7 linked regions of the Homo sapiens genome follow. The protein of the gene in region 7 interacts with the protein of the main gene of each other region in a pairwise test. Each region holds a gene or a part of one and is shown on either strand. Other genes may lie near its edges.

The links.
Region 1: the proteins of PLLP (region 7) and PACC1 interact in binary tests that used the Homo sapiens proteins (3 or more experiments, as listed by UniProt).
Region 2: the proteins of PLLP (region 7) and OPRL1 interact in a two-hybrid assay, tested with the Homo sapiens proteins (one large-scale study listed by BioGRID and IntAct).
Region 3: the proteins of PLLP (region 7) and CYB5R3 interact in a two-hybrid assay, tested with the Homo sapiens proteins (one large-scale study listed by BioGRID).
Region 4: the proteins of PLLP (region 7) and GOLT1A interact in binary tests that used the Homo sapiens proteins (3 or more experiments, as listed by UniProt).
Region 5: the proteins of PLLP (region 7) and SYPL2 interact in binary tests that used the Homo sapiens proteins (3 or more experiments, as listed by UniProt).
Region 6: the proteins of PLLP (region 7) and TRIM59 interact in binary tests that used the Homo sapiens proteins (3 or more experiments, as listed by UniProt).

Annotation. Positions count from the first base shown.
Region 1 is NC_000001.11:212,407,917-212,412,260, forward strand, and holds part of PACC1 (proton-activated chloride channel), read right to left. Parts: intron 2,606-4,344; coding exon 2,509-2,605; intron 1-2,508. UniProt on the Homo sapiens protein: Chloride channel gated by pH that facilitates the entry of chloride ions into cells upon exposure to extracellular acidic pH. Involved in acidosis-induced cell death by mediating chloride influx and subsequent cell swelling.
Region 2 is NC_000020.11:64,086,084-64,090,427, reverse strand, and holds part of OPRL1 (nociceptin receptor), read right to left. Parts: exon of another isoform or gene 3,850-4,344; coding exon of another isoform or gene 3,829-3,849; intron 804-3,828; exon of another isoform or gene 669-803; intron 1-668.
Region 3 is NC_000022.11:42,625,009-42,629,352, reverse strand, and holds part of CYB5R3 (NADH-cytochrome b5 reductase 3), read left to right. Parts: intron 1-1,071; coding exon 1,072-1,201; intron 1,202-1,664; coding exon 1,665-1,748; intron 1,749-1,963; coding exon 1,964-2,049; intron 2,050-4,344. UniProt on the Homo sapiens protein: Catalyzes the reduction of two molecules of cytochrome b5 using NADH as the electron donor.
Region 4 is NC_000001.11:204,207,067-204,211,410, forward strand, and holds part of GOLT1A (vesicle transport protein GOT1A), read right to left. Parts: intron 1-4,344. UniProt on the Homo sapiens protein: May be involved in fusion of ER-derived transport vesicles with the Golgi complex.
Region 5 is NC_000001.11:109,479,472-109,483,360, reverse strand, and holds the end of SYPL2 (synaptophysin-like protein 2), read right to left. Parts: coding exon 3,813-3,889; 3' UTR 3,244-3,812; coding exon of another isoform or gene 3,228-3,243; 3' UTR 1,227-3,227; downstream 1-1,226.
Region 6 is NC_000003.12:160,446,987-160,451,111, forward strand, and holds the start of TRIM59 (tripartite motif-containing protein 59), read right to left. Parts: upstream 2,801-4,125; 5' UTR 2,731-2,800; intron 1,810-2,730; 5' UTR 1,740-1,809; intron 1-1,739. UniProt on the Homo sapiens protein: E3 ubiquitin ligase involved in different processes such as development and immune response. Serves as a negative regulator for innate immune signaling pathways by suppressing RLR-induced activation of IRF3/7 and NF-kappa-B via interaction with adapter ECSIT.
Region 7 is NC_000016.10:57,274,673-57,278,172, reverse strand, and holds part of PLLP (plasmolipin), read left to right. Parts: intron 1-3,500. UniProt on the Homo sapiens protein: Main component of the myelin sheath that plays an important role in myelin membrane biogenesis and myelination. Plays an essential function in apical endocytosis. Regulates epithelial development through the regulation of apical endocytosis.

The sequences.
Region 1 (4,344 bases), on a different chromosome or scaffold from region 7:
ATAAAAAAGTAGCTGGGTGTGGTGGCACACGCCTATAGTCCCAGCTACTTGGGAGGCTGAGGCAGGAGAATCACTTGAACCTGGGAGGCAGAGGTTGCAATGAGCCGAGACTGTGCCACTGCACTCCAGCCTGGGTGACAGAGTGAGACTCCATCTCAAAAAAAAAAAAAAAAAGAAAACACCACTGGTGTAGTAGAGAGAGTTTAGGGTTGGGCAGAGTTTGACTCAGTCTGTGTTTACCAGCTATATGACCTCCCCATGCTTTACTCAACCTCCCTGAGGTTGGGGGCCTCATCTGTAAAAGGGGGATAACCACTTCACAGGGTTGATGTGAGAATTAAATGGGGCAAATGGGGTACGACAGATCCTGGCACAGGAGAAGCAGTCAGGAAATGTTAGCTGCCCTTCCAGCCTCCTTCCTTCCAGGCAGTCTTTTTTTACTTTATTTTATTTTTTTTTTTGAGGCAGAGTCTCACTCTTGTCACCCAGGCTAGAGTGCAGTGGCATGATCTCGTCTCACTGTAACCTCCGCCTCCTGGGTTCAAGCGATTCTCCTGCCTCAGCCTCCCAAGTAGCTGAGATTACAGGCATGTGCCACCACACCTGGCTAATTTTTGTATTTTTTAGTAGAGACAGGGTTTCACCATGTTGGCCAGGCTGGTCTTGAACTCCTGACCTCAGGTGATCCACCTGCCTCAGCCTCCCAAAGTGCTGGCATTACAGGCATGAGCCACCGTGCCCGGTCCCTTCCATGCAGTCTTCTGTAAGGAGCAGGCAGAACCACATTAGTTCCTGTCTTGTTCCCCTCTCCCACAAACAGATGGGATCCATCCAAGAAGTTGAAGTCAGGCTGGGGCTTCATTCATTCACTCAACAAATCTTTATGGCGTGGTCAAGGCTAGGCTGGTGAGCAAAACAGACTGGTCTCTGCCCTCAGGGAGTTTCATTCTAGTAGAACAGGGGTCCCCAACCCCCAGGCCACAGACCAATACGGGTCCATGGCCTGTTAGGAACTGGGCCAATACAGTAGGAGGTGAGCAGTGAGTGAGCATTACCACCTGAGCTCCACCTCCTGTCAGATCAGCTGCAGCATTAGATTCTCATAGGAGTGCAAATCCTATTGTAAGCTGCACATACAAGGGATCTAGGTTGTGTGCTCCTTATGAAAATCTAACTATGTCTGATAATCTGAGGTGGAACAGTTTCATCTTGAAACCATCCCCCAACCTCCATCTGTGGAAAAATTGTCTTCCACAAACCGGTCCCTGGTGCCAAAAAGTTGGGGACTGCTGTAGTAGAACAGACAGACATTAGTCAGACAAACAAACGCACCATTCCAACAGCAATAGCCGGAAAGGAGAGGCGCGTGGACTATGAGACGGTGCTGGAGGGTGGGAGGTAATCTGGCCAGAAGGTTAGAGAAGGCTCTGTGGAAAAAAATGAGTGAGCTGAAAGCTGAAGAATGATTAGGCATTAACTATGTGAAGAAGGAAAGTGAATTCCAGGCAGAGAAATAAAACAACAAAAAGGCCCTGTGGTGAGAGGGAATGAGGCCTAAAATAAAAAAAGATCAGCATGGCTGAGGGCCAGAGAAAAAGGGGATGAGAGGAAGGAAGGAATGGAGAACTACTCTGAAGTTCAACTGCGTTAAGTGGTAGTACCATTCCTGCAAACAGGAAATACTGGGAGAGGACCAAGCTGGGACTGAGATGATCATGAGGTCAATTTTGGACATGTGGAGTTGAGGGAAGCTTTGGGAGATCCAAGCAGAACTATGACATGGGCAGTTGGAAATACAGGATATATAAATTTGCGGTTTGTAGGTAACCTCTGGGCTAGAGATGTAAACATGGGAGTCACGTGTGAGCAAGCAGTGGCTGAAGCAAGGGAGCAGGCCTGGGTAGAACTGTCTATGAGAGTGAGAGAAAGGGGCCTGCAACCAACATTTCATGCCCAAGAGCTGGAGAGTGACCGCAATGGAGCCTGGAAGGAGTGGCCTGAGAAATGCTGCATCACAGAAGCTAAGGGAGCAGCGTGTATCCGGGCGGAAGAAGTAGTCAGCAGTGTCAAACATTGCCGTAGGGCTCCATAAGATGCCAACTGACTGATGGGACCCTGCTTACCCAACTGAGCAGCATTACTGGACAGGCCTAGTATCTGAAAGAGGGGGCCTATTAGATCTTCTTTGACCCGGATATTAGAGGCTCACCTGCTAGCAGTTTCCAGGGAAAGAGGAACAGAAGAGCAGAGATCCAAAGCATTTGCCATTGTATGCAATGACCTGACCTCAGGAAGTGGCTCAAATTGGAGTTAAGAGCAGATACCAGCCTAGACATATCCTCTGTTCCAAGGCTGGTTAAATATGTATGGCTTTAAAACTAGGGCAATACTTGAGACCTGACACCAGGGTGCAGGGAAGGGGGCTCCTCCTCTCCCACAGTTGGCAAGGCGCCTAGACTGGGGTGTCCAGCTGCAGCAACAGCACAGCAAAGCACCAAACGCACTCACCTGGTAAGATACCCGGACCTTGGACTCTGACCGTCTCCTTGTCCTGCTCGTCTGCCAGCTCTGAGTTCTCAACCACCTGGACCAACTCCTCACTCAGCTAAAGGGAGAAGCAAAGAGAGCAAAGACAAGTCAGCTATGTCAGCCTTGCTTTTCTACACTAGAATAAGAAAGCAGAAGCTGCTTGTCACTTAATTGTCACCAAAAACCACATGACATAGAGTGTGTTACAGCAATTTTACAGATGAGGACACCGAAGCTCAGAAAGCTCAATAAACTTTCTGCTCTCTGTGTTCCTAGGACTACTGTAGCAAGTACCACAAACCGAACAGCTTAAAACAACGGAAATGTCTTCTCTCACAGTTCTGGAGGCTAGAAGTCTGAAATTGAGGTGTTGGCAGGGTTGGCTCCTTCTTCTACGAGTGGTGAGGAAATCTGTTCCATGCCTCTCTCCTGGCTTCTGGTGACAGCCAGCAATCCTTGGAGTTCGTTGGCTCGTAGAGGCATCCAATCTCCACTCTCCGCTGCCATCTTTACAAGGTGTGCTCTCTCTGTGTCTTCACATGGTCATCGTCTTGAAGGACACCAGCCATGTTGGATTAGGGGCCCACCCTACTCCTGTATGACCTCATCTTCACTAATTACACCTGCAATGACCCCATTTCCAAACAAGGTCACAATCTGAGGTACCTGGGGTTAGGACTTCAACATATCTTTTTTAAGGAAACACAATTCAACCCACAATATTTTCCATGGCCATAAAGCCAGGGAAAGATATGGCAGGAGTAAAATCCAAGTTGGTCTAGTTCCAAAGCCCATAGTCTTAACCACTTCCCAAAGGAAGAGGAAATACGGCTTAGAGTCTGCTGAGAGAAAAGAGGGAACAGTGAAGGTGGTGTCAGAGCTCTCTCTGGCACTCTGGCTGAAGTCCACTGACTTGGGCTGCAAATGGCAGAACACAGCAGGAAGGGCAGGCAGTCCACCACAGGGATAGGTGCTGATTATAATCAGCAGCCTGGTAGCCAGCAACCTCAACCTCACTTCACCAGTGGTCTCACCTGTCAAATGGGGAAAATTATACCACTGAGAAGGGAAGAAGGACGGAAAGGATACCATGATAATCAACAAGTCTCTGTAGGATTAAGGAGGAGGGCAAGAGAGCTCAAGACCAGAGCTTAGAAGAGAAGCCATCCCTGAATTGGGAGGGAGAGGGGACAGCTTTCCCAAGCACTTTGTCAGGTTCACAGCATCAGTGTTTAAGGTTTTAAGGTTTCTAGACATTTTCATTAAAAACTCACCTCCAAGAGACAAGTGAAAAACATCTCTTACGAATCTATTCTTCTATCTCCCTCTCCACGACTCCACTCCTGCCCCTTAGAATCAGGCAAAATCTCCAGTTTAAAGCCCTCGAAGCACAAAAGAAAAGGCCAGGTGCGGGGCCTGACACGGTGGCTCATGCCTGTAATTCCAGCACTTTGGGAGGCCGAGGTGGGCGGATCGCCTGAGGTCAGGAGTTCGAGACCTGCCTGGTCAACATGGTGAAACCCCATCTCTACTAAAAATACAAAAATTAGCCGGGCATAATAGCGCACACCTGTAGTCCCAGCTACTTGGGAGGTTGAAGCAGGAGAATCTCTTGAACCCGGGAGGCGGAGGTTGTAGTGAGCCGAGATCGCACCATTGCACTCCAGTCTGAGTGACAAGAGTGAAACTCAGTCTCAAAAAAAAAAAAGAAAGAAAAGAAAAGCAACCAGTGGGAAAGGGCAGGGAGGCTGGTGAAGGCACCAAGAGATATAAGCCACTAGCAGGAGCACAGATAAAGAGGTCTCACTGGCCAAA
Region 2 (4,344 bases), on a different chromosome or scaffold from region 7:
CCTGGCAAATCAGGAGAGGACGGAACAGGCAGATGCCCCAGGACCCAGCATCCCTCGCTGTCCCCCAGGATTTCTCCCTGCATCTTCACGGCAACCAAGACTCAGGGACACGTGTGAAGGCACGGGGCACGTCAACAGAGACACTCAAGGGACACATGGGGACACACATTCCTGCAAACACACACACAGATGCCCAGACAGGCATACGGGTGAACACACAGAGACATGGATGGGTACACACTCAGAAATGCAGACACTCACAGGGATGCACAAACACACGGGCCACACACATGCAAGATGACGCCAACGTGCACGCAGGCACATGGGTAGACCTAGAGTGTGCATGGACACCTTTGGGAACAGGCAGACACAGACCAAGGCCCTCCGACACCCAGAGGACACACACATGCACAAACACGCTCTCCAGGCAAAGCTCGAGGGTGAGCCCCCTGACCTCAGGAGCCGAGAGGGGGCAGGAATCCAGGCAGGCTCGGACTCCTGCAGCCCTCCGCCCCAGCTGGGCTCACCAACGTCTGAGCAGGAGACCCTAGACCCTCCTACCCGAGCTTCCTGAGCCTGCCTCCCAGCCTGGGACCCAGCCTGGGCACTGTAGGCACTGAGGGTGGGCAGAGCAGAGACCTCGTAAGGGAAGGACAAAGGAGCCCAACCTGATGTCCCCGGACCAGGAACCAGTGTCAGAGGCCAGGGCAGAGTGTGGGACACAAGCACCTCATCCCTGCTACTGCAGACACCTCTCCCTTCGCATGTCTGTCTTCCACCTGGGTCACCCCACAGCTTCCTCCCTACAGGCAGAGACAGGGAGGATGAGGGGTTGGGATGGGGAGGAGGAGGAAAGGGAAAGGAGTGGGGAGGAAGTATGGAGAGATCAAGAGAGAGGATGGGTAAGGAAGGATGGGAGAAGAGGGAGGAAAACACGCTGGGGATAGGAGGACAGGAAGAAAGGAGGGGGGACGAGGTCAGACCTAGCTCCCTGACCCCCACCTCTTTTGACCCCAAGCCTTCTCACCCAGCAATAGCAACCAGCCACCTGCACCCCCACCAAGGCAGCTCCCAGCTCTGCCTTGCCTGGCCTTTCAGGAGTCAATAGAGACCTCAACTCCCTCTGTGGGAGCCGTTCAGGGTCCAGCAGAAGGCCGTGGCCTCCCCAGTCCAGGTGTTCACAATCTCATAATGTGTTCCCTTGAACTTCTTGTGTGTTCTGTGTCATTCTGCCCTGACATGTTCATAACCATAGAACCCAGGACAGCTTCTCCCTCCCTTGTGCCTGCGGCAAACCCCCAGCACAGACCCTGGCATGCTGAACAGCCTAGGCCCCCTGCGCAGAACCTGCCCCCCACCCACATAGACCCCTAGCCCACGGTACAGACCTTGCCCCCTGCATTGACCCTGCGCACCTGCCTGCACACAACCTGTCCCCCCTGCAAAGATCCTGCCCCCTTGCAAAGACCCTGGCCACTCTGCACAGATCCTACCCCTTGCACAGATCCTGGCCACTCTGCACAGACCCTGGCCACTCTGCACAGACCCTGGCCACTCTGCACAGACCCTGCCCTCCCTGCACAGATCCTGCCCTCCCTGCACAGATCCTGGCCACTCTGCACAGATCCTGGCCACTCTGCACAGATCCTACCCTCCCTGCACAGATCCTGGCCACTCTGCACAGATCCTACCCCTTGCACAGATCCTGGCCACTCTGCACAGACCCTGGCCTCCCTGCACAGATCCTGGCCACTCTGCACAGATCCTGGCCTCCCTGCACAGATCCTGGCCACTCTGCACAGATCCTGGCCACTCTGCACAGATCCTACCCCTTGCACAGATCCTGGCCACACCTGCAAAGATCTAGTGCCCCCAAAACCTGGCACAGACCGTGCCCCCACCCCACATAGATGCTATCCCCGTGCGTAGATCTTGGTCCCTCTGTACAGATCCTGCCCTCCCTGGACGGGTCCTGTCCCCCGACTCCCTTGAACAGACACTGACTCCCAATGTAGATCCTACCCACTGCACAGATCCTGGCCCCACTGCAAAGATCCTGCACGCTGCACAGATCCTGTTACCCCCTAAAAGTCCTCCCCGCAGAGACTCCTGCCCCCATGCAGAGATCCTGGCCTCAATGCACAGATCCTGGCCCATGTGCAGATTCTGGCCCCTTGCATGGATCCTGCCCCACCCCAGCCAGCTCCAGTCCTACCTCCTCCAAGAAGCCTACCCCAGGACCCCCAGCCCTGGGAACCTTCCTAACTTGGCCATTATTCAGTAATACGGCTGCCAGGCTAGGCCTGTGAGCTCTGGTCTCAGCAGATATCCTCTGAGAGTGTGGTCAGCAGAGCCCCGCAGGAGGCAGGCACCTGGCCCCTCACAGGCGCAGTCTTAGAGTGAAAGACAGGCCTGGTCACCTGGCTAGGGGATTGGCCAGGTGTGACACTGACAGTGCTCCCTGGGGTTGGCAGGGGCCCAGCCCTGGACCCAGAAACGCTCCCACGGAGGAGAACTGGTGGTGCAGATGAAATGGCCCAGGTATCTCTAGACCCCTAATAGAGTCCTGCCCTCCCCCAACCTGCCAAGGGTGGGGTGGTCCCTCCAGAAGGGGGAAGGTAGAATCAGGGTCCTATATAGAACATATATGTTACACAAGAGATAGCAAGAGGCACATGTTATATGAGAGAGCAAGACAACCTCAAACACACATGTTCTGGGCAGGCGAAACAATATGCAAGGATACTAGGGATAGCCCAAGACACGAACGATGACACGCGAATGACAGCACAGAGCTTGTGTGCGAGGATACTAGGGATAGCCCAAGACACGAACGATGACACGCGAATGACAGCACAGAGCTTGTGTGCGAGGATACTAGGGATAGCCCAAGACACGAACGATGACACGCGAATGACAGCACAGAGCTTGTGTGCGAGGATACTAGGGATAGCCCAAGACACGAACGATGACACGCGAATGACAGCACAGAGCTTGTGTGCGAGGATACTAGGGATAGCCCAAGACACGAACGATGACACGCGAATGACAGCACAGAGCTTGTGTGCGAGGATACTAGGGATAGCCCAAGACACGAACGATGACACGCGAATGACAGCACAGAGCTTGTGTGCGAGGATACTAGGGATAGCCCAAGACACGAACGATGACACGCGAATGACAGCACAGAGCTTGTGTGCGAGGATACTAGGGATAGCCCAAGACACGAACGATGACACGCGAATGACAGCACAGAGCTTGTGTGCGAGGATACTAGGGATAGCCCAAGACACGAACGATGACACGCGAATGACAGCACAGAGCTTGTGTCCACAGATTAAAGCCTGACACAGGCTGCTCTTGGAGCTCCTGGGTATTTGGGCAGGCCTGGGTTCCGGGGTGAGATTCACACCCACTCAGCAGGCAAATACACACACCTCACTCTCATCCAGTGACTCAGAATCAGCAAACGCCAGACGGCAGCTGGAACACTGTCTTTTGTCCTCCCCACTCCCACCCCCAGGGCAGGCACAGTCTACCCTCCTCCTTCCACAGGCTCACCACCCTGGGCTGGCCAAGAACAGGAATCAAGGCAGAGGGTCTGGCAGCCCCTCACAGAGCAGCCATCCCCCAGGGAAGCCAGTCACCAGGCCGCACATTTGTGCTATTAAAAAAGTGAAAGAATTTTTAACAATTCTGAGTTTCATCAAAATAAATTACTTTGTCCTTGTGATTTTAACTTTACAAAATCTATATACAATGACAAAAAAAATTGAGTTGTAGCTTCTCAATATCATGTTAAATTTTGTAGTCATTAATAAAGCTTACTAATTTGACTTGAAGTTTCATCGTCAGGCCTTGGCAGCAATAAACATGCTTTTAGATCTCAGCATTTCCGTTAGCCCTTGAAAAACACGTGAATCCTGGGGACAGAAACAGATGGGAGGTGTCGGCCTGCTGGGTCCCTCACAGTTGCTGGACCCCAAACACACAGAGAACACCTCCCTTCTTGCAGAACTGCAAACGTGTGGAGAAACAGTAGGGGTGAGGAATGTGAGCCAGGTAGGCCCTGGGAGTACCTGCTGCAAATTATGGACTAGGGGGTGTCAAGGTTTTCCAGTCCTATAAAAAGAGGTTACAAGCCCCTTCTTGCAGAACAGAAGAATATTCCCCTACTCCCTGCGTGACTCCCCCACAAACGCCAAGAGCCAGAAAGTGCCCCACCCATGTGTCCCCCTGGCCTGGACCCAGGGAAGCTGAGAGGATGGCCCAGGTCCCTGTCTCAAAGGACTCACCCCTATGGGAGCACAAAGGCTGCCCAGAGAAAGCGGCTGCTGGGTGAGC
Region 3 (4,344 bases), on a different chromosome or scaffold from region 7:
TGAAGAAGGAAGAAAAGGAGCTTCAGGTGCAAAGGCCCTGAAGTCAGCAGCAGGCTCAAGGATTGAAGTGGCTGGAGGGTTGGGGCAAGGGGTGGGAGAGGTCAGTGGGGCCAGACGGGGCCTTGGAGGCCCCAGTAAGGTTTGGGGCTTTGTCCAGAAGCACAGAGGAGGTGATGAGGGCTCAAGCATCTGTTCACGTTGAAGTCTCTCTGGCCAAATGTGGAGAAGCTATTAGGAGGATTCAAATTGAGGATGAAAAACTCACAGGTGACCAGGCCTCTCCTGGCTTGGAGACCTGGCTGGCTCCCTTGGTCCTTGATAAAGGTTAGAGTCCTGGCCTGGCACCCAGGGCCCAGGACAGTGTGCTCTGCCTGCCTGTCCGTGGCCCTCCACTCCCCTCTGCCTCCACACCCCATAGCCACCCTCTGTGCTGAAGCCACAACAGGCTCCCCTCCCTGAGGCACTGTGTACACGCTGTCCCTCCCCCAGCCACCTTCCCCTTCTCCATCCATCAGACTCCTTGGGCAGGGTGAGCCGCTCCTCCTCTGTCTCCCCATTTCTTTGTAGGTGTCGGATTGAGGCCCTTCTCTTTCCCAAGACAGTAATCCTAGAGAGTGCAGGGCAGGAAGTAGTCCCAAGAGTGAGGGAGGTTTTTAGCGACAGCACAAAACGGAAGGGACTGAGTGTCCACCAGGAGGAGTGTGGCTTAGTGGGCCTCCCAGAGCCTTGACTTTGCTGACGGGTTCAGTGTCTCCCGTTGGGAGGGGGCCCCAGAGACAGTTGGTGAAATGTGAGTGCATCCAGCCCTGGAGTTGGTCGGCCTTGTACACGAGGCTGGTGGTTTGCTTTCCCCGGATATGTCAGGTGGAGGCTGACTCCTGGGAGGACGGGGTGAAGGACGGGGTGCAGGACAGGTAGGATTTGACGGCTGGGTGGATGGGGCTCCACGGGAGAAGGCCATGTGTGGGCCTCAGAAGAAGCTGCAGAAGAGGCACTTGTCTCCCACTGTGGGCAAGAGCTCGCCCCTGAGACCTGGAGCTGGGGACTGAGGGCTGCGGGGGTGTCTTGCAGGTTTACTTCAAGGACACCCATCCCAAGTTTCCCGCTGGAGGGAAGATGTCTCAGTACCTGGAGAGCATGCAGATTGGAGACACCATTGAGTTCCGGGGCCCCAGTGGGCTGCTGGTCTACCAGGGCAAAGGTGATTCGGGTCGGAATCCCTTGGTTACACGGCAGGCTCAGAGAATTGGAGAGCTTGGGCGTGCTGGGTGCAGGGTGCAGGCCCCTGGCTCTGTGTGGATGGGTGACTCTCGTCAGGCCAGCTGTCCCTCTCTGGGAACTGAGTCTCCCTGGCTGTAGAGGGGGTAAGTTGCTGGCACAGGGGTTGCAGACAGGCCACTCCTGGGGGCCACGTCTCACCCACTGCCAGCCTCTATTTGGCTTTCTCAGCATCTGAAACAAGCAAGCAAGAGGACAGAGCTGAGCCTCCGGGTTCCCAGCCTCTCCACTGCTCCTGCACCTTCCTCATGGCTCGCGTTAGAATGGCAGCTGCCTCTACCTCGGACCTCACAGTGGGGGCAGGTTCTCCAGCCCCCTCTCCAGCCTCTCCAGCCACCACACATGGCATGTTTGATGGCCGGGCCTCACCCCTTCTCTCTCCCCAGGGAAGTTCGCCATCCGACCTGACAAAAAGTCCAACCCTATCATCAGGACAGTGAAGTCTGTGGGCATGATCGCGGGAGGGACAGGTACACGGAACCCCCCACTGAGGCGTCCGGCGGCTCATGTTAAGGGTGGGGTTGGGGTGTGGGTGAGGCGCAGGTTCTGAGTGCCTGGGAGCTACCAGAGGTCAGGGGCCCAGGCCCAGTGGTCCTGGCCCCTCCACCCCAGTACACCTGGGCGGGGCGGTGCCTGTGAACAGGCCTCGCTCAGCACGTGCGAGGCCCGGCCGGCTATTTTGCAGGCATCACCCCGATGCTGCAGGTGATCCGCGCCATCATGAAGGACCCTGATGACCACACTGTGTGCCACCTGCTCTTTGCCAACCAGGTCAGTGGGCATCCCCATGATGGGGAAACTCAGCTTACCCTGAGAGGGGACTTCGGGCCTGGTCAGGTGCTGTTCCAGGGGTCTGCACAGCTCTGCTGAGATTCTGGGGATGACCGGGATGGGGGGCCCTGAATGTTCTGTGCACTGGCGGCCTTGGCAGCAGCACGGCGGGCAGGCTTTGTGGTGCAGCGCCTGTGTCTGGCTGAGGGGGCTGCCTTGCGGGGAGCTCCCTGAGCACCCCCTCCCCTGGCTGCTTCCTCCAAAACTCAGAACTCCCTTCACCATGAGCACGGTGTGGAACCCACTGGTAGAGTGGGAAGAATGCTGGCCTGGACATGGAGGGGCCCATCTTACAAATGACCAGACATTTGCACGAAGCCCCTGAGCTACAGGGTGTCAGGGCAGGATTTGAATGTTGGTGTCTCTGGCTCCTGATTCATATCCTTGTCCACGAGCCCACTGCCTGCCTGCCCGCCCTGGCCTGCTGTGTGGTCTTGGACGAGCTACTTTCCCTCTCTGAGCTTCACTCCCTCATCTGTAGAATGAGCTGATGAAACTGGGTTGTTGCAAGGTCTTTTCAGGTTAGTGTTTTGTGACTGATGACGTAGATTTGGGGGAGAAGATGCTTGCCTGAGGTCCTTGGATGTGGGTCCTTGCCCCACCCTGCCTCCCCGCAGCTGCAGAAAACTGCCGCAAGGCCAACCAAGATGGCCTTGCCAGGCCCAGGGGAGAAAGAGCCAGAAATTCTAAGCTGGCTGGTGTGGAGGGAGAGAGGGCAGCAGTGAGACTTGGTGGTGCTGGTTCAGAGTCTGTGGAGGCCGTCAGACCGTCTGTCACCTGTACAGGCCATCTTTGCAGCTGGTAGCGAGGGCAGTGTGGTCGCCTCATCTCATACCTCCGAACACAGGCTCCGGGAGGGGCTTGACTGTGCATGTCTCGTGGGAAGTGCTGAAACCAGGATGCAAACCAGGGTTTTATTTATTTATTTATTTTGATACAAAGTCTCGCTCTTGTCCCTCAGGCTGGAGTGCAATGGCACAATCCTGGCTCACTGCAACCTCCGCCTCCCGGGTTCAAGTGATTCTCCTGCCTCAGCCTCCCGAGTAGCTGGGATTACAGGATGTGTGCCACCATGCCCGGCTAATTTTTATATTTTTAGTAGAGATGGGGTTTTACCATGTTGGCCAGGCTGGTCTCGAACTCCTGACCTCAGGTGATCCACCCGCCTCAGCCTCCCAAAGTGTTGGGATTACAGGCGTGAGCCACAGTACCCAGCCTATTTTTATTTTTAAAAAACTATTTTAGAAAACATCATTCTGTTTTACGTTTTTGCAAACCTTGGAATGTCTGGCTTCATAGGACAGCTAGATTCCTGTGTTTGTTTCTACATCCCATCTGTGTGATGTTGCCAGTCACGCAGCCTCTGGAAAGTGGCCCCATCTACTGAGAGAGGAAGAGTGAAAAATACCAGTGTCTCAGTATTATATGAAAACCATTTGGCCTCAGGGATCCTCTCCAGGGTCCCAACCCCAGGGGTCCCCATGCTACACTCCGAGAACCGTGCCAGTCGGGTCATTGCTGCTCGTTTCCTCTCCTACCTTCCTCCGTGACCTCAGTGCCTGGTTTTGAGCTGGGAGCCCCCTACCCTCGAGTAGCAGCCCCCCAAGGTTCCATCCCTCTGTTCATCTGTCAGGTGGGTCGCGGCGGTGGCCACCTCAAAGGATGGTGGTGAGGATTAAAGCATGAGACACACTTTAGCTCAGAGAGGAAGACATAACTTTTTTTAAAAAAATTGAGACGGAATTTCACTCTTATTGCCCAGGCTGGAGTGCAATGGCGTGAATCTCGGCTCACTGCAACCTCCGCCTCCCGGGTTCAAGCGATTGTCCTGCCTCAGCTACCTGAGTAGCTGCGATTACAGGTGCCCGCCACCACATCCAGCTAATTCTTTATATTTTTAGTAGAGACGGGGTTTCACCATGTTGGCCAGGCTGGTCTCGAACTCATGAGCTCAAGTGATCCACCCACCTCAGCCTCCCAAAGTGCTGAGATTACAGGCATGAGCCACCATGCCTGGCCTAAAAAGAAAGTTACACATAGTTAATAGAAAAAGAAAAGTGAAAAGATGCACACAAAAATCCTAACAGTCATTATTTCTGAAGGGTTTCAGGTACTTTTTCTTCCATATTTTCTGTATTTTTTTCCTTGAGTTCATCTAGCCCAAAGCCTGTCCCTGTCCCTGTCCTCACCCCATTAGGGCAGAAAGGGCCCTCAGCCTCCCACCCTCAGAAACTG
Region 4 (4,344 bases), on a different chromosome or scaffold from region 7:
TTGCCTCTTGCTTCTGGAGTAGCTTAGCTATTTTAGTCAAGTTATCCAGCCAGAGGTTACTCCTAAAGTTCTTTTCAGGCAGCAACCATGGCAGAAAGAGTGGAGGGGTGGGGATGTCATACAGATGCCCCCAGGAGTGACAGGTGTGCCTGCCCGGCACGGTCCCCGTGATCCAGACAGATTGGGCAGCGCGCCCTCTGCTGGAGGCGGCCAGGGCTGTCACGCCTACACCCAGCCGAAAAAAGCTGGGAGGCCAAGGTAACTTCAGGGAGGCCCGGCTCTCCAGGCGCCACCTAGAAGTGGAGACCTCCCCAGACCTCAGAGACCAGCTTTAGATCTCCCTGGCAAGGTACACTGATGGCTGCACTGGTGCCCTTGTTTAGCTCCTTGCTCTGCAACTCCCGAGTTGCTGCCAAGAAGAGCCCATGGCCACCCGATACGGACAAGCCAGGCTTCCCTGACTCCCCATTTTGTGGCTCACTTTAAGAAAAGCCAGGTTCAATGTCTTTCTTGCTCCAGAAATCAGCTACAGCTCCAAGAAAACAATATCTCATGGAGCAGGCAGATGAGTCCTTCTGGCCTCAGGCACGCAGTGAGTCTCAGAACATCATCGTCTTTTTTCCCCCTTTTCCTTTTCTTAAAGCAATCACACATGTACAGGAAACTTGCAAGTACAGTACAAAGAATATTTTTCTTGAACCATTTGAAAGTAGTTGCCACCTCATACCTCATCACCCCTGAATGCTCTGGTGTGGTTTTTAAAACTCCTGGACACTAAGGACATGAATAGACAATTCTCAAAAGAAGATATACAAACAGCCAACAAACATGAAAAAATGCCCAACATCACTAATGATCAGGGAAGTGCAAATCAAAACCACAATGTGATACCACCTTACTCCTGCAAGAATGGCCATAATCAAAAAACAAACAAACAAAAATAAATGTTGGCGTGGATGTGGTGAACAGGGAACACTTCTACACTGCTGGTGGGAATGTAAACTAGAATAGCCACTATGGAAAACAGTGTGGAGATTCCTTAAAGAACTAAAAGTAGAACTACCATTTCATCCAGCAATCCCACTACTGGGTATCTCCCCGGAGGAAAATAAATCATTATACGGAAAAGATACTTGCACATGCCTGTTTCTAGCAGCACAGTTTGGAATTGCAAAAATATGAAACCAGCCCAAATGCCCATTAGTCAATGAGTGTATAAATAAATTGTGATGTGTATATATATACACACACATATACATATATATGTATACATATATACACACATGTATGTATATATGTGTGTATCTATACACATATACACACATATGTATACATATATGTATATATGTATACATATGTGTATATGTATACATATGTGTGTATATATGTATACTTGTGTGTGTGTGTGTGTATATATATATATATATATATATATAAAAAATGAACTACTACTCAGTCACAAAAAGGAATGAAATAATGGCATTCGCAGCAACCTGGATGGAATTGGAGATCATTATTCTAAGTGAAGTGACTCCGGAATGGAAAAGCAAACATCATATGTTTTCACTCACAAGTGGGAGCTAAGCAATGAGGATGCAAAGGCATAAGAATGATACAATAGACTTTGGGGACTCATGGGAAAGGGTAGGAGGGGCTGAAGGATACAAGACTACACATTGGGTACAATGTACACTGCTCGGGTGATGGGTGCACCAAAATCTCAGAAATCACACTAAAGAACTTATTCATGTAACCAACCACCTGTTCCCCAAAAACCTATTGAAATAAACAAGCAAACAAAAAATTCTCCTAAACAGCCAACATACAGCCATCAAAATTGGGACACTAACATTGATATGTGACTATCCTCCAACCCTCAGACTCCATTTAAGTTTCATCAGTTACTCCAGTAGCATCATTTATAGCAAAATAATCCAGTTCATCATTCTGTGTGGTATTTAATGATCATGTCTCTTTAAACTCTTCTGTCTGGAACAGCTCCTTGGTCTTTCCTTGGCATGACCTTGACACTTTTGAAGATTCAGGCCACTTATTCTGTAGCCATCCCTCCATTTGGGTTTGTCGGATGTTTCCTCACGACTAGCTTCAGGTTATGCATCTTAGGCAGAAATAGCACAAGATGTGATGCTGTATTTTTCTCACTGCATCCTGGTAGGTGGTGCAAGATGTCAATTTGCCCCATAGCTGATAATGTTTCTTTATTCTTAAGGCAGTATCTGCCAGGCCCCTCACCACCCCATCCCTGACCCTGCAGGGGATGCTTTGCCTATGATACTTTGTACCAGGCCACCCCTAGTGTGAACACCCTTCTCACCCTGCTGGGGTTCTAACACCCCACTCTGGGCACCGCCTTCTCTGTGTTAAACCTAATGGCTTTAAGACTGAATTGTTCAGGAAGAGGAAGGAGGGAAATAAGGAGAGAAAGAGCCTCATTCACTTTTTAAAATTAGCAATAGTGATTGATAGTGTAATGAACATACTGGGCCAGGCACAGTCTAAGCACATATATGCTTTAAGTATATTAACACATTTAATTTTCATAACTACCTGTGACATAGGTACTACTATTAGCACCATTTCACAAACAAAACTGAAACACAGAGGTTAAGTCACTTGCCTGGGGATACACAGCAGCTGGCAGAAGCAGGATTTGAACTTAGTCTTGAGCTCCAAACAGTGCCTTTTGGGCAGGCACGGTGGTTTACACCTATAATCCCAACACTTTGGGACGCCGAGGTGGGTGGATCATCACCTGAGGTCAGGAGTTCGAGACCAGCCTGGCCAACATGATGAAACCCCGTCTCTACTAAAAATACAAAAAATTAGCCGGTGAGGTGGCGGGCACTTGTAATCCCAGCTACTTGGGAGGCTGAGGCAGGAGAATCGCTTGAACCCGGGAGGCAGAGGTTGCAGTGAGCCAAGATCATGCCATTGCACTCTAGCCTGGGCAACAAGAGTGAAACTCCATCTCAAAAACCAAAAACAAAACAAAACAAAAAATAAAAAGTGCCTTTAACCAACCCAGTCCAGTCCACTTCTGCAGGCAATGCTCTTGCCTTGGCCATTAATGACCTTCATGTTACCAGATCCAATGGGCAGGTGTGAACCATCATCTGTTAGAACTGACCACTGCCGTGTTGAAACAGCCTTTCTCTTGGTTTGTGCACAACACGTTCTTGATTTTCTTCCTACTGCTCTAACTGCCCTTTCTCTGTCTCCTCTGCCAGCTCCTACTTCTCTCTCTTCTTCTTGGGATTTGAATTGCACAGGGCTTGTGCCCAAGCTCACTTCTCTTCTCATTCTATTTCCACATGTATTCCCATGTGTTTATTTTTGTTTTTAATTTTGTCTTAAAGCTGGGATCTCGCTCTGTTGCCTAGGCTGGAGTGCAATGGCACAATCATAGCTCACTGCAGCCTTGAACTCCTGGGCTCAAGGGATCCTTCTACCTCAGTCTCCTGAGTAGCTGGGACTACAGGCACTTGGCCACCATGCCCAGCTAATTTTTTAAAATTGGTTTAAATTTTTTTGTTGTTGAGACAGGGGTTTTGCAATGTGCTCAGGCTGGTCTTGAACTCCTGGCCTCAAGCGATCCTCCCAAAGTGCTGAGATTACAGGCATGAGCCACCACACCCAGCCTCTCACGTCTTCAAACCTCCCTTGTATGCTGATGACACTGATGTCTCTCTTTCTAGTCCATGCCTCTCTTTGGGCTTTGAAACTCATATCTAGCTGCTTACTTGGCATATCTGCCTGGTTTTCTCTCAGCCATCTTGAACTGGGCTAATCTTCAATCCCAAACTGGTCTATTTATCTTCCCTCCTTCAACTTGTGCCTCCCTTGGTTGTCCTCAAATGAGTAAACATGTCACCACCGCCCACCCCACCACTTAACGCAGAAGCCCACCCCTCCCCCATGAAATCCACAGCTAAGTTTTCTTTTCTTCTTCCAAGATACATGTTGAAAGCTGTCCATTTCTCTCCATTCTTAACACCTAATTCCCGGCCACGATCATCTCTTTCCTGGACGTATGCAGCAGCCCCCATTTGGCCTCCTGCTTTATTCCTGCACCCTCCCAGTCCTTCTCCACACGGCGCTCAAAGGTCTTGCAAAACATACAACCTGATCATGTTAGCATACTGCCTAGACTCCTTCACGGCTGCCCACTGAGATTAGACTGCAGCAGAGCCTTCTCATCCACACCACAGCTCACAGGCCCTGCCTGGTGGGGCCCAGGCCTGCCTGCCCACCTCATCTCCTGCCACTGTCCCTATTGCCTGCCATGCTCCAACCACACTGTTCTCCATGGCTTCCATGTGAGCC
Region 5 (3,889 bases), on a different chromosome or scaffold from region 7:
CTCTGTGGGAAACCCACGCTGCCCTGATGCAGAGCAGAGGGTTGGCGTGGCGTTGTCTGGATTTGAGAGGACCTGGCCAAGCTGACCAAGATCACCTGTCATGATGACAGGATGACAGAAGGCTGTCTCCGAGCCAGAGCCAGCCCCAGAACTGGGGTGGCCCCGAGGCAGCTGGTGTTTGCAGCATCTCTGCTGATCTGTCTCTCTTCTCTTGAGAACTGCGATCGATACCCTGTACAGCCTCTTCCCAAACCCTGGCTGGACCCTGACTCCATCCATCACTTTGCCTTCTTTTTCTAATGAATACTTTCTCTGCTGGAAGGGCTGCTTCTGAAGCCTCGGCATAGGGAGATTTCTCATCAGAGCTGTCATCTTCCTTGCTAAGGTCTGGAAAGTACCTTAATCATCCATTTCTTTCATCTTCTCAGCTGATAACATTTCTTCCCACCCTCACACAATCAGACAAAAGTCTGCCTACTCCATTTCCCGCCCCCCCCCCGCCGCCATCGCATTAAAAAAGTAATACTAATCCTTTTTCCTCCTCAACCTCTCACACCTCACCCCCGACGCTTGACCCTTTAGCTAAGGGGAAAACAAGTTGGGGAGCAAGACCTCAGATTTTCTTCTCCTTTTCATCCAGGGAAGGTGTAAGTACTTCAAGAATAATCTCTGAGGGCAGGGAATCTCAACCTGAGACCCACAGATGATCCCTAGGGCATCCAGGAATCAGGTAAAAATTAAATGTTCAATTGTACCCAAGGTATTTTTCTAGGGGATGTAAATGTAGTGTGTGACTCTCTGAAGAGGGATAGAGGTGCAAGTTTGTTCAACAAGAAGCTGATAGTTAAGAAAGTGAAGCATATGGCCCTCAACTCCTGACAGGAAGCCTGTTTGGGTCACAGATGGTAGGAGAACAAATGGAAACAGCTTTGTGGAAGCCACTATCTCTCACCTTTTGAGTTTGCTCCAGAATTGCTAATGAGTCCCAGTTACTTTGGTCTAATTGGGTGCCACCAAAAGAGGAGATGTCACTAGACCAGAGCCTGCTAGGAATAACTGCTCTCCTCTCTGCACCCCAAGCAACAGAGTCTGACTTTGTTGCTTGGGGTGCACAGTGGAAAGCAGTAGAATGATATCTTGGTGAAAGTCCTGATATTGGTTCAAGAACTTAAAGCAAGGGAGAGGAAGAAAAAATAAATCCCCGGAAGGACTCCAGTCTCAGATCCTTCATGGCAAGTACTTGCAGCACTGTTTATTCAAATATATAATAACAAGCACCAGAAAACAACATGCAACATTCTCCCCCCACCCCTGATCTGCAATCCCAGAAGTAGGAGGCTCATGACTATGATAGTGAAGGAAACTCATGTCCAGGAAAGGTCCTAGGTGGGCACCCTGGTGCTGGGTTAGAGTCTAGTGGGACAAAGGGCAAGTACCCTGCCCATTAGCCTCCTACAGCAGCTGGAGAAACCAGACACCTTCTTCTACCTCAGGCCCCACTTTGCAAAGCAGTGATGCCAGCCCTGGTTGGAGAGAACATGAGTCCTATGAGGCACTTGGCCCTGCCCAGCCCTCTGGAGGTAATGAGGTGAAGTAGCCTTTCCTCTTAGGGTGGCCATAGAGAGTGAGGCCGTAGCCTAAATCAAGGCTCTCCTGATGGAGAACAAGAGAGCCTCTTGAGAAGAAAGAGAACGAGGCTTCCTTGCTCTAAAGAGAGTCCTGGGCTGGGAGTCCTTGGCAGGAGTGAATATAATCTCCCCCCACCCCCTGCCCGCAACTGCTTTCCCTAGCTGAAGGCCCAGTTGCTAACTTCAGCCCCCAAATGAGAACACTACCCAGCACATTTCAAATAAATTATAAATACAGACACAGAATCCAAACAAAGATCCAGTAGAAGCTGCTCACAGACCCCCACAGAGGCCGGCTTGAAGAAAAATGAAGGTCACCCCTTTGTTCTCTGTGTCTCTGGAGCTGTAGGCAAAACTGTCCCCCCTTGTCCTTGAGTAACCATGGGGACAGCTCATGACAGAGAGTTTCAGACTTAAAAACCCTCTCACCCCATCTCCTTTCTTTCCTCCTCAAATCTCTTCCCCAAAATCTTAAACAAACAAACAAAAACTAATTCTTTCACTGAGGGACTCAAGCATTTGGGGATGTAAATCTCACCCTTTCCCCATCGGGAGGAAATGACTGGCCTGAAGTCAAAAGTCCTGACTCCTAGGTACCCCAGTAATGCACATGTTACTATGGATGGTGTTTAGAGAGGTGAGGAGGTTGAAGGGGGTTGACTCAGTCCTGAGGAGAGATTGGCACAGGGCACATTCACCTTTAGGATGCTTAGTGGGCCAATTGGCACTGGATTGGAAAGTGGTCGGATTCTTCCCTCTTCTTCCTTCCCTGGGAAGCCCTATGGCCAGGGCAGATTGAGCTGGGTAGGAAGCAAATGATCCTTACCCAGTTAACACTGATTCTCAGCCTTGGGGCCCAGAGAGGGACTGAAGGAGGTATCAGGAAGAGGATATACACTAAAGACAAATATGGAACTGGGTCCCAAAGTGAAGAAGCACCAATAGCATCGGCCTGCCCTGGACTTGAGAGGGGATAGAGACTGGGAGAAATAAGGACACAGGGGAGAAATGGGACAGCAAGGGAAGAGGGAACATCCTGTTTTCAAGATGAGAAGGAGAAATATGAAAGAAGGACTAGAGAAGGAGCAGGGGAAAAAACTGAGCAGGGAATAAGGAAAAAATGGGCCCATCCATCCTGGGGCTCTGGGGCAACTTAGCCTCATGATGGTCCTTTGGCCCTTCCTAAGCCCCTGTCTGGCCCCACAGGAATAAAAGGAAGGCCTGGACAGACTTCAAAAAGGATCTCAAATGCCTCAGATGCACGATGCTGGGGAAGGGAGATGGACAGAGAAGTAAGGGGATTAGGAGGCAGGTCCTGACTCCACATTTTTGAGTCCCAAGTGTGAGACCAAGAAGGAGGACAGGGAGGAAGATAGGGCGTTTCTAAAGTAGAGTTTAGAGTGTTGGTGGAAAGTGCCCCAGCCTGGTGGGTGGGAGGATTGAGGGGATAGAAGAAATTGATTCTGCCAGCAAGCTTACTGGCTTTACTTTCTTGAAGCTGCAACTCAGTTGCAATTTATCTTGCTCCCAGCTGAGTCCAGGAAGGCCTCATCAGGACCCTCTGAAGGGCTGTTTTCTAGGCTGGTGGACCTCTCTGGTTCACACATGGTGGATTCTGTGGGCAGGCAGAGGCCAGAGAAGACAGTGGAAGGCACACTGAGTCATGGGATGACTGGAGATCAGACGCAGGGACTAGATGACAGCCACTGAGGAGGGGTCGCCAAACCACTATTGGGGCCTCCACACAAGGGACCAGAGGGGAAGGCTACTAGCTGATTTCCCTTCCCCCTAATATTGTTGAAGCCGGACAGGTTGACAGAAAGGTGGCTGCTAGGAACCAGTCTCAGAGCACTGGTTTCCTGCCCCCAACCCTCACCTGCAGCAGAGGCTGGTTCTCAGAGACTGTAAGGGTACAAGTAAGACCCCAAGTAAGATACCTGGGTCCAGGCACTGCACAAGAAGCACTGAGCTCCTGCCATTCATGGCTCCAGCAAGAAGGAGGATAGGAAGCCACTGAGAGGGCTGCCCAGGTTTCCAACAGCTGATGCCTGCCCATCGTCTCAAAGCTCAAAGACCAGAATGATGGGGGAGGGGAATTGGAGGAGGAGGAAGAGAAAGGTCCTGGAAGCCGGAGGTGGTTGAAGAGGTGCTGTCCAGTTCGGGAATAGCCAGGTGGGGGGCTGCTTACTGCTTCTCCACTGCTCCCTGCTCAGCTGCACTCTCCTGGCTGGGACCCTGGCCCTGGTCCTGGTCCTGGTCCT
Region 6 (4,125 bases), on a different chromosome or scaffold from region 7:
TTTAATGGGTACACAGTTTCAGTTTGGGAAGATGAAAAAGTTAACGGAGATAGTTGATGGTGATAATTACAAAACAATTTGAATGTATTTAATACCACCAAACTGCATACTTAAAAAGATTAAAATGGTAAATTTTATGTTTAGCATATTTTACACAATAAAAAAAAAACTTTAAAAAATTTTCAAGCGTCTTGCCTATTATCCAGTCTTCCTTTTGCTAAATGAATTTGAATCAATTTATACTACTGTATGTTTTTAAAAAGCAAAAAAGTAAAATAATCCATGTAAAATGTATTTTCCTCTAGTGAGTACTAAGCTCATGTAAAAACCAAGTTCAAGATTTCCTGCTTCTCTTTTAAAACCGAGAAATATTAATATAAAAAAATGAATCTTCTCAGAAAGAAACCTGAGGCTAAATCACTCTACTTACAAATTATTTCACTAATGTCTAGTGTGTTTAAGTGTCAAAACAAATACATTTCTGAATTTCCAAACTTTTTATTAAGTCTTTCTCCAGAGGGCCAATTCACTAGTGAGCCTCCCTGATGTCTAACTGGCATATTAGGTAATAGACAGTATAATAGATGATTAAATAGCACCGAAAATATCATTACCCATTCTCCTGTGTAAACCAGTTTTTAAGTTTTAATTCACTAATGCTTTCCTGCCTTTCAACTCTAAACATGAACAGTTGTAAAACGTTCATTACATTTCACAACCTCTGAAAGGAAAATATATTTATTACATTATAGAATTCGATGACTTGTCCCAAGACTTCTAGTGAGTCAGCTTTAAGTATGGGAAAATTCAAGTGGTGCCACCACCCAAACTGGGGCTCACATCTTTGTGGACCTAACTGATAAAGAAGAAATACATTTCATGCAAGTCAAGACTTACTTAAGAAATAACTACAACTGCACCATTTATAAACATATATAAGATTTTTTTAACATTATCGCAGAAAGTCTGAGAAACAAGATTTTTAAAAATAATTCTGTCACATATAAATATACAAAAATAGTGAGAGATCACCTTAACTTTTTCAAATTAAAAAAATCCTATGGTCAGCTGATTTTAAATCTCTTTGTCCATCTGTACTATTTTCTTTCATTTTGATATCAACCTGTTTCCCTAAACTAAAAAATAAAAATAAAAACTAGAAACAAAACAAAAAAAGACTATTAATTCAATTTAACCGGAATTGACTTGAGAAATTAAGGCTTTAATTGCTTTTGCTGTACTTTTCAAAGTAAAAATATATCTGGTGGGAAATATTCATCAACGTGTTTAGTGAAAGGCAATGTCAAAACTAACATCACCTAAAATCAAAATTTCACCTTGCCAGATTAAATAGCTACTTACTCATTTAAAAAGACCAATACATGAATGCATAGTGAAAAAGTATCCAGGTAACTTAATTTGCAGTTTTGTGTAGTTCTGCAGATCTGTATGTATAAAATAACAACTTTGCATGTGTTTTGAGATGTACACATTCTTGTAAAATTTCTAGAAGGATGTACAAAAGAGTTAAGTGACTACTTTTAAGGTACAGATCAGAGAAGGGAGTTGTTTATTTTTCACTTTATGCTCCGCTCCTTCGATAAAATGGTTGGAGTTTTATACACCGCCAACACAATGTTTTTTCAAAAGACTTCTAAATTTCACTTTGTAGTTTAAATCATACACTCTGTAAAAACTTAATTGTTTTTCATATTTATTTAATCTCCCAGATTACCTACTTTGTTGATCTCGTGGTTTGGGGGCTGAATACACTCTTCTCCAACTCCTCCAGAATCTTTTATTCTTATTCTAAAATTAAAATAATGTTATCTTTAATGTTTTCAATTTATTGTCTCATGTCATAAAAATGGTTGTTAGTTCACTGTCTTTGATATTTATCTTCACGATGCTTCATCGTGTTTTCAGAAAAGCCACAAACACCAACACAGTTGCTGGAGCTGCAGTAGAGGTATCGCTTGTTCCTTGAAAATCCTAACTCTGACCAAACAGACTGTCACAAAGGACCTCTTTTCACAACGTCAAGTAGCTTATGAGCTCTCGACAATATTACCCAACAATGGTGATGGCAGAAAAAACATTCACGGTCATTTTAGAGTGCTTAAAATTAACTGCAAGACAAAAGCATCCATGGGAGTAAAATACCTTGCCAGCTCTAAATTATAACTGATTTAGTATAGTTTGCTCATCTCTCTGTTCTGCCATTTCAATGCTGTGGGACCTGGGTCAGTATTACCAAATACCTCTCAAAAGTGAGGCTTCACATCTGTAAAATGGGTAACTGCACCTACCTCACTTAAGTCCTGCGAGCACCTCCCACAAAGGGGCTCAAAATGGCAGTACTCTTCCCTTCCCCTTCTCAAAGCTCCACTCTCCCAGGCCTCCCTCCTAACGCGCCTCCACCTCGGCACCCGCCCGTCCCCAACCCCGCGGGACTGACCGACTCGGCGGCGTCCGCTCAGCTCACCCTCGCCACCACAGAGGGCCTCCTCCCTCACAGGAACGCAGCTCCACAGTGGAGGGACGGGAAAGTGGCTCCCCAAACTCCAGTATGGGACAAGAGGGAATGAGTGCAGGTCCCAAGCCACTCCCTCCATCGTCGCGCCCCCAGGACTCCCCGCCCAACACACTAGGCACACCAGACTGTGCTACAGGAAAAGAAAAAGGACTCAGAACCACCTTCTCCGCATCCGTAAAGGTCCTTAGACTCACCGCGGGGAGGAAGCGGACCAGGCAACTCCACAGCACGGAAACACAGCGCCACGAGCTCCAGGCGGATGCTGAGAGCCGCCCCGAGTCCCCGCCCTCCTCTGCCCCGAAGGGCTTCAGGTGCCCAGACCGGGCGGGGCCTCGCGGAGCCTCGCAGCGCAGGCGCAGTCTGCAGGCAACATTCAACTGCAAGGCATCGGCCAATGGGAACTATTGCTGGGCTCGTTCGAAAGTAAACGGTGGACGGCGCGGCCCGAGGCAGGTGGCGGGAGTCAGTTTAAGGCTGGCGCCCAGCTTTCCGCGCCTGCGTGCTAGGCGCAGGCCGCCTCTCGGAAGCTTGGCCTCGCAGGAGCGGCTCTCTATCCTGTGGGGAGCTTCGGCCAGTGGGCCTCGTGAGCTGGGGTCCCGCCTGGGGAATCCGCATGGCACCGGTGGTCTGGGGGAGAGGCTGGGCCTGGCGCGGGACGAGGCGAAGCGCCGGTGGCCGACGGCTTCTGAGGAATTATCTTTTACTTGGCGCCACACGGGGCGGGGCCTCCTGCTATGCTGTGGAGCGCAGTGTCTTCCATCGTTGCCTCACAGACCCGCTGCTCCGGGAAGTCGCCACACATTCTCAGGGAACACCCACATCTGTCGCCTGCGCCCTCCGCCGCTCAGCTGTTTGCTTTTGTTTACGCATTCCGGAGACCTGACCCACCGGAGCACTGGGCTGAGCACAGGAGAAGGGGCTTTGGAGCGCTCTTTGTACTCAACTCCAAGAGCGAGTGGGAAACTCAGGACTGGGTTGGGTAGATCCCTGCGTCTCTCCCTAGCCTTCGTCCTCTTCCCCCGTTTTTCCACTTTATGAAAGTATTGCCTAGAGATGAGGGCTGTCCAACTCAACACTTCCAACTTCAAGTTCCTACTTCACCTCTAACTCCCTAGAGTTAGAAAACAACGTACAGCTTAGAGGTTCCTTTCCCTTTTTTTCTTGAGAAACTTTATTCAGCTTTATCTCAAGACATCACCGCTTCCCTCTCCTGTCAACCTTAAATAGTGAGGTTCTGGAAATATGATTAAGGATAGAGTTTATTCCAGCGTAAGGCTTGAGGGTAGCCACCCAGGAGACACCAGCTCCAAATGGGGTTAGCATTCCAAAGTGAAGAAGTTAGGGTTTCGCCTAGGTGGCCAGAGACAAATTTTAACAGGATTTCATTTCCCCTAAGAGACCAGTGCATACTTACAGCTATTTGGTAGGTTACAGATTACTACATTCCAAGAAAAAGTATTTTGTTACTCCATGAGGGGGGGTAGTGATCTCAGGGGGTTGTATCTCTGGTATGGTTTGGTCCTCCTATTTTAATTATTTATAGAAACAAAAGGCAGACGTTGCAGATGCCTGCTGCTTGACTCAGGCTG
Region 7 (3,500 bases):
AGACGGGGCTTCACCATGTTGGCCAGGCTGGTCTTGAACTCTTGACCTCAGGTGATCTGCCTGTCTCTGCCTCCCAAAGTGCTGGGATTACAGGCATGAGCCACCGTGCCTGGCCACTCTTCATGTTTTGAGACTTGTCTTCCTTCCTTGTAAACTGTTGTGGAGTAACCCGTAGTGTCCCGGCAGCCTCTGCTCATTTAGCTGTTTCTCTACTGATGGAATTGTTTTATTCTTTGAAAAAAAAATTACAGAGACATAATACAAAGCACTCAAATAGTAGAAAGGGTAATCAAGAAAATGTAATCTCTCTCATCCCTGACTGACCACGCCCCACAGCTGCCCTCACCCCAGGCAACCACATGCCTTGTGTCTCATTCCAGGGTGAGTGGATGCATATTTCTACATAAAACCCACATCCTCACTTAACCACAGATAGGTGCTGTCTGGGCATGTGCCAAGCCATGCTTTTCCCCAGGGCAATACACCTAGGGATATTCTGTATCAGTGCACAGCAAGCTGTGTCCATCTTTTTCATACCTTTATTACCTAATTTCTTTTTCTTTATTTTTATTTTGTTTGTTTGAGGCAGAGTCTTGCTCTGTCACCCAGGCTGGAGTGCAGTGACGTGACCTCAGCTCACTGCAACCTCTGCCTCCCAAGTTCAAGTGATTCTCCTGCCTCAGCCTCTTAAGTAGCTGGGATTACAGGCACGCACCACCATGGCCTGACTAATTTTTGTATTTTTAGTGGAGACAGGGTTTCACCATGTTGATCAGGCTGGTCTCAAACTCCTGACCTCAGGTGATCCGCCCGCCTCGGCCTCCCAGAGTGCTGGGATTACAGGCGTGAGCCACCGCACCCGGCCCCTAATTTCTTTAATAGGTAATGTATTTACAATGCTCAAGAATAAAATAGACAGGGAAGGAGTACAGTGAAAAATCTCTGTTCCCTTTTGGTTAAAGTTGACTCCTTCATGCCCACTCTCAGTTTTCTATATCCCATTTTAAGACTTTCTTTAAGGAGACCTATGCAAATGTGGCTCTAGATTCCTCTCTCTCCCAGTTTATATAGTCTCCCCAAGATATATAGTCTAGCCACATCCTTCTGCACTTTTTCTTTTACACTTAAAAAATGAATCTTGGGGGTCCTTTTGTCTCAGTGTGTGGAGTGCAATTGCTTCTTTCTTTATGGCTTCTATAGTATTCCACCATGCAGCTGTGGTGTGACTGTGTGGTCAGTCCCTTTGTTGACAGACACTTCGGGTTTTCTATTCCTTTGCTGTTGCGCACCCTGCTGCAAGAAATGCCACCAAGTGCATCTGTACGATATGTTTCCAGGAGTGGGACTACTGGGTGGGAGGATACATGCATTTGGGATTGTGATGTAGATTGCCAAATGCCTTCCGGAGAGGTCACACCCTTCCTGCCTGCAACAGCATGCCTCCTGGAAGGTTCCTGTTCCCACAGCCTCCCAACATGGTGATTTAACACACTTCTGGATGTGCCCCAATCGAATAGACCAAAATGATAGGTCAATGTAGTGTTATTTTCATTTCTCTCTCTCTCTTTTTTTTTTTTTTTTGAGACAGAGTCTCACTCTGTCACCCAGCCTGGAGTGTAGTGGCATGATCTTGACTCACTGCAACCTCTGCCTCCTGGGTTCAAGCAATTCTCTGGCCTTAGACTCCCGAGTAGCTGGGATTACAGGCGCCCACCACCAAGCCCGGCTAATTTTTGTATTTTTAGTAGAGACGGGGTTTGGCCATGTTGGCCAAGCTGGTCTTGAACTCCTGACCTCAGGTGATCTGCCTGCTTCAGCCTTCCAAAGTGCTGGGATTATAGGCATGAGCCATGATGCCCAGCTAATTTTTATATTTTTAGTAGAGACAGGGTTTCACCATGTCGGCCAGACTGGCCTCGAACTCCTGACCTCAGATGATCTGCCTGCCTCAGCCTTCCAAAGTGCTGGGATTACAGGCATGAGCCACCAAACCTAGCCTATTTTCAGTCTCTTATCAGTGAGGTTGACCTTTTAAAAAATGTGTTTGGGTTGTTTGTTGGTTTTTGAGACAGGATCTCACTCTGTCACCCAGGCTGGAGTGGAGTGGCACGATCAGGAATCACTGCAACCTCCGCCTCCAGGGCTCAAGCCATCCTACCACCTCAGCCTGCCGAGTAGCTGGGACTACAGGTGCTCCTCACCATGCCCAGCTAATTTTTGGTAGAGACATGGTCTCACTATATTGCCCAGGCTGGTCTCGAACTCCTGGGCTCAAGCAGTACTCCTGCCTCGGCCTCCCAAAGTGCTGAAATTATAAATGCAAGGCGCGGCGCCAGGATCTAAAAGATGTTTAAGAGCCGTTTGTATTTCCTTGTCTGTTTGTATTCTTTGCTCATTCTACTGAGTGTGGTTGGTCTTTGCCTTAATAACTGCTAGGAGTTCTGGATTATTTGCAAATATTTCTTTCCTAATTTGTTTGTTTTGCTGGGTTTTTTTCCCCCTCTCATGGTGTTTTTTTTTTTTTTTTTTTTGCCTTGCAAAATTTTGTTGTAGTGTTTTTTTTTTTTTTGCTGAATTTCTTTATTTCATTCCTCTTCCTTTTTTCTTTCTGGGTTCTGGAAATTGAATCATAGTTCAGTCTTTTTCACTCCAGTTGTATCTGTCTGGAATGTATTAACATTGTTACATATTTGTTGTATTTAATTACCTTGTTAGCTTCTATTGTGACAGATAATACAGGTTTCCCACTTCCTAGTGATTTAAGTTTCCTTTTTAAAATTAGCTTATATATGTGATATATACAAGTTCATCAATGGGGACTAGTTTAGATAAATTATGATACATCTGTACAATGGTGCATGATGCAGTGAGTAAAAAGATATCCCCCCACCCCTCAAAGAAGACAATGCAACAGCTCTGTGTATAAGGATGGACAATCTCCAGGCTACCTATTTAAGTGAAAAAAGCAAGGTGCAAAATTGTAGCATGCTATCATTTGTGTGGAAGAAGTACACAGATACAAGACACACTTATCTGAAATGCATGTGTGTGTGTGTGTGTGTGTGTGTGTGTGTGTGTGAAGTCCCTGGAGACACACATAAGAAACCACTCTTGGCCGGGCGTGGTGGCTCACGCCTGAAACCCAGCACTTTGGGAGGCCGAGGCGGGCGGATCACGAGGTCAGGAGATTGAGACCATCCTGGCTAACACGGTGAAACCCCGTCTCTACTAAAAATACAAAAAATTAGCCGGGCATGGTGGCGGGCGCCTGTAGTCCCAGCTACTCGGGAGGCTGAGGCAGGAGAATGGTGTGAACCCGGGAGGCGGAGCTTGCAGTGAGACAAGATCGCATCACTGCACTCCAGCCTGGGTGACAGAGCAAGACTCCATCTCAAAAAAATAAACAATAAACTACTCTTGATCCAGGCACAGTGGCTCACACCTGTAATCCCAGCATTTTGGGAGGCCGAGGCAGGCAGATCGCCTGAGGTCAGGAGCTC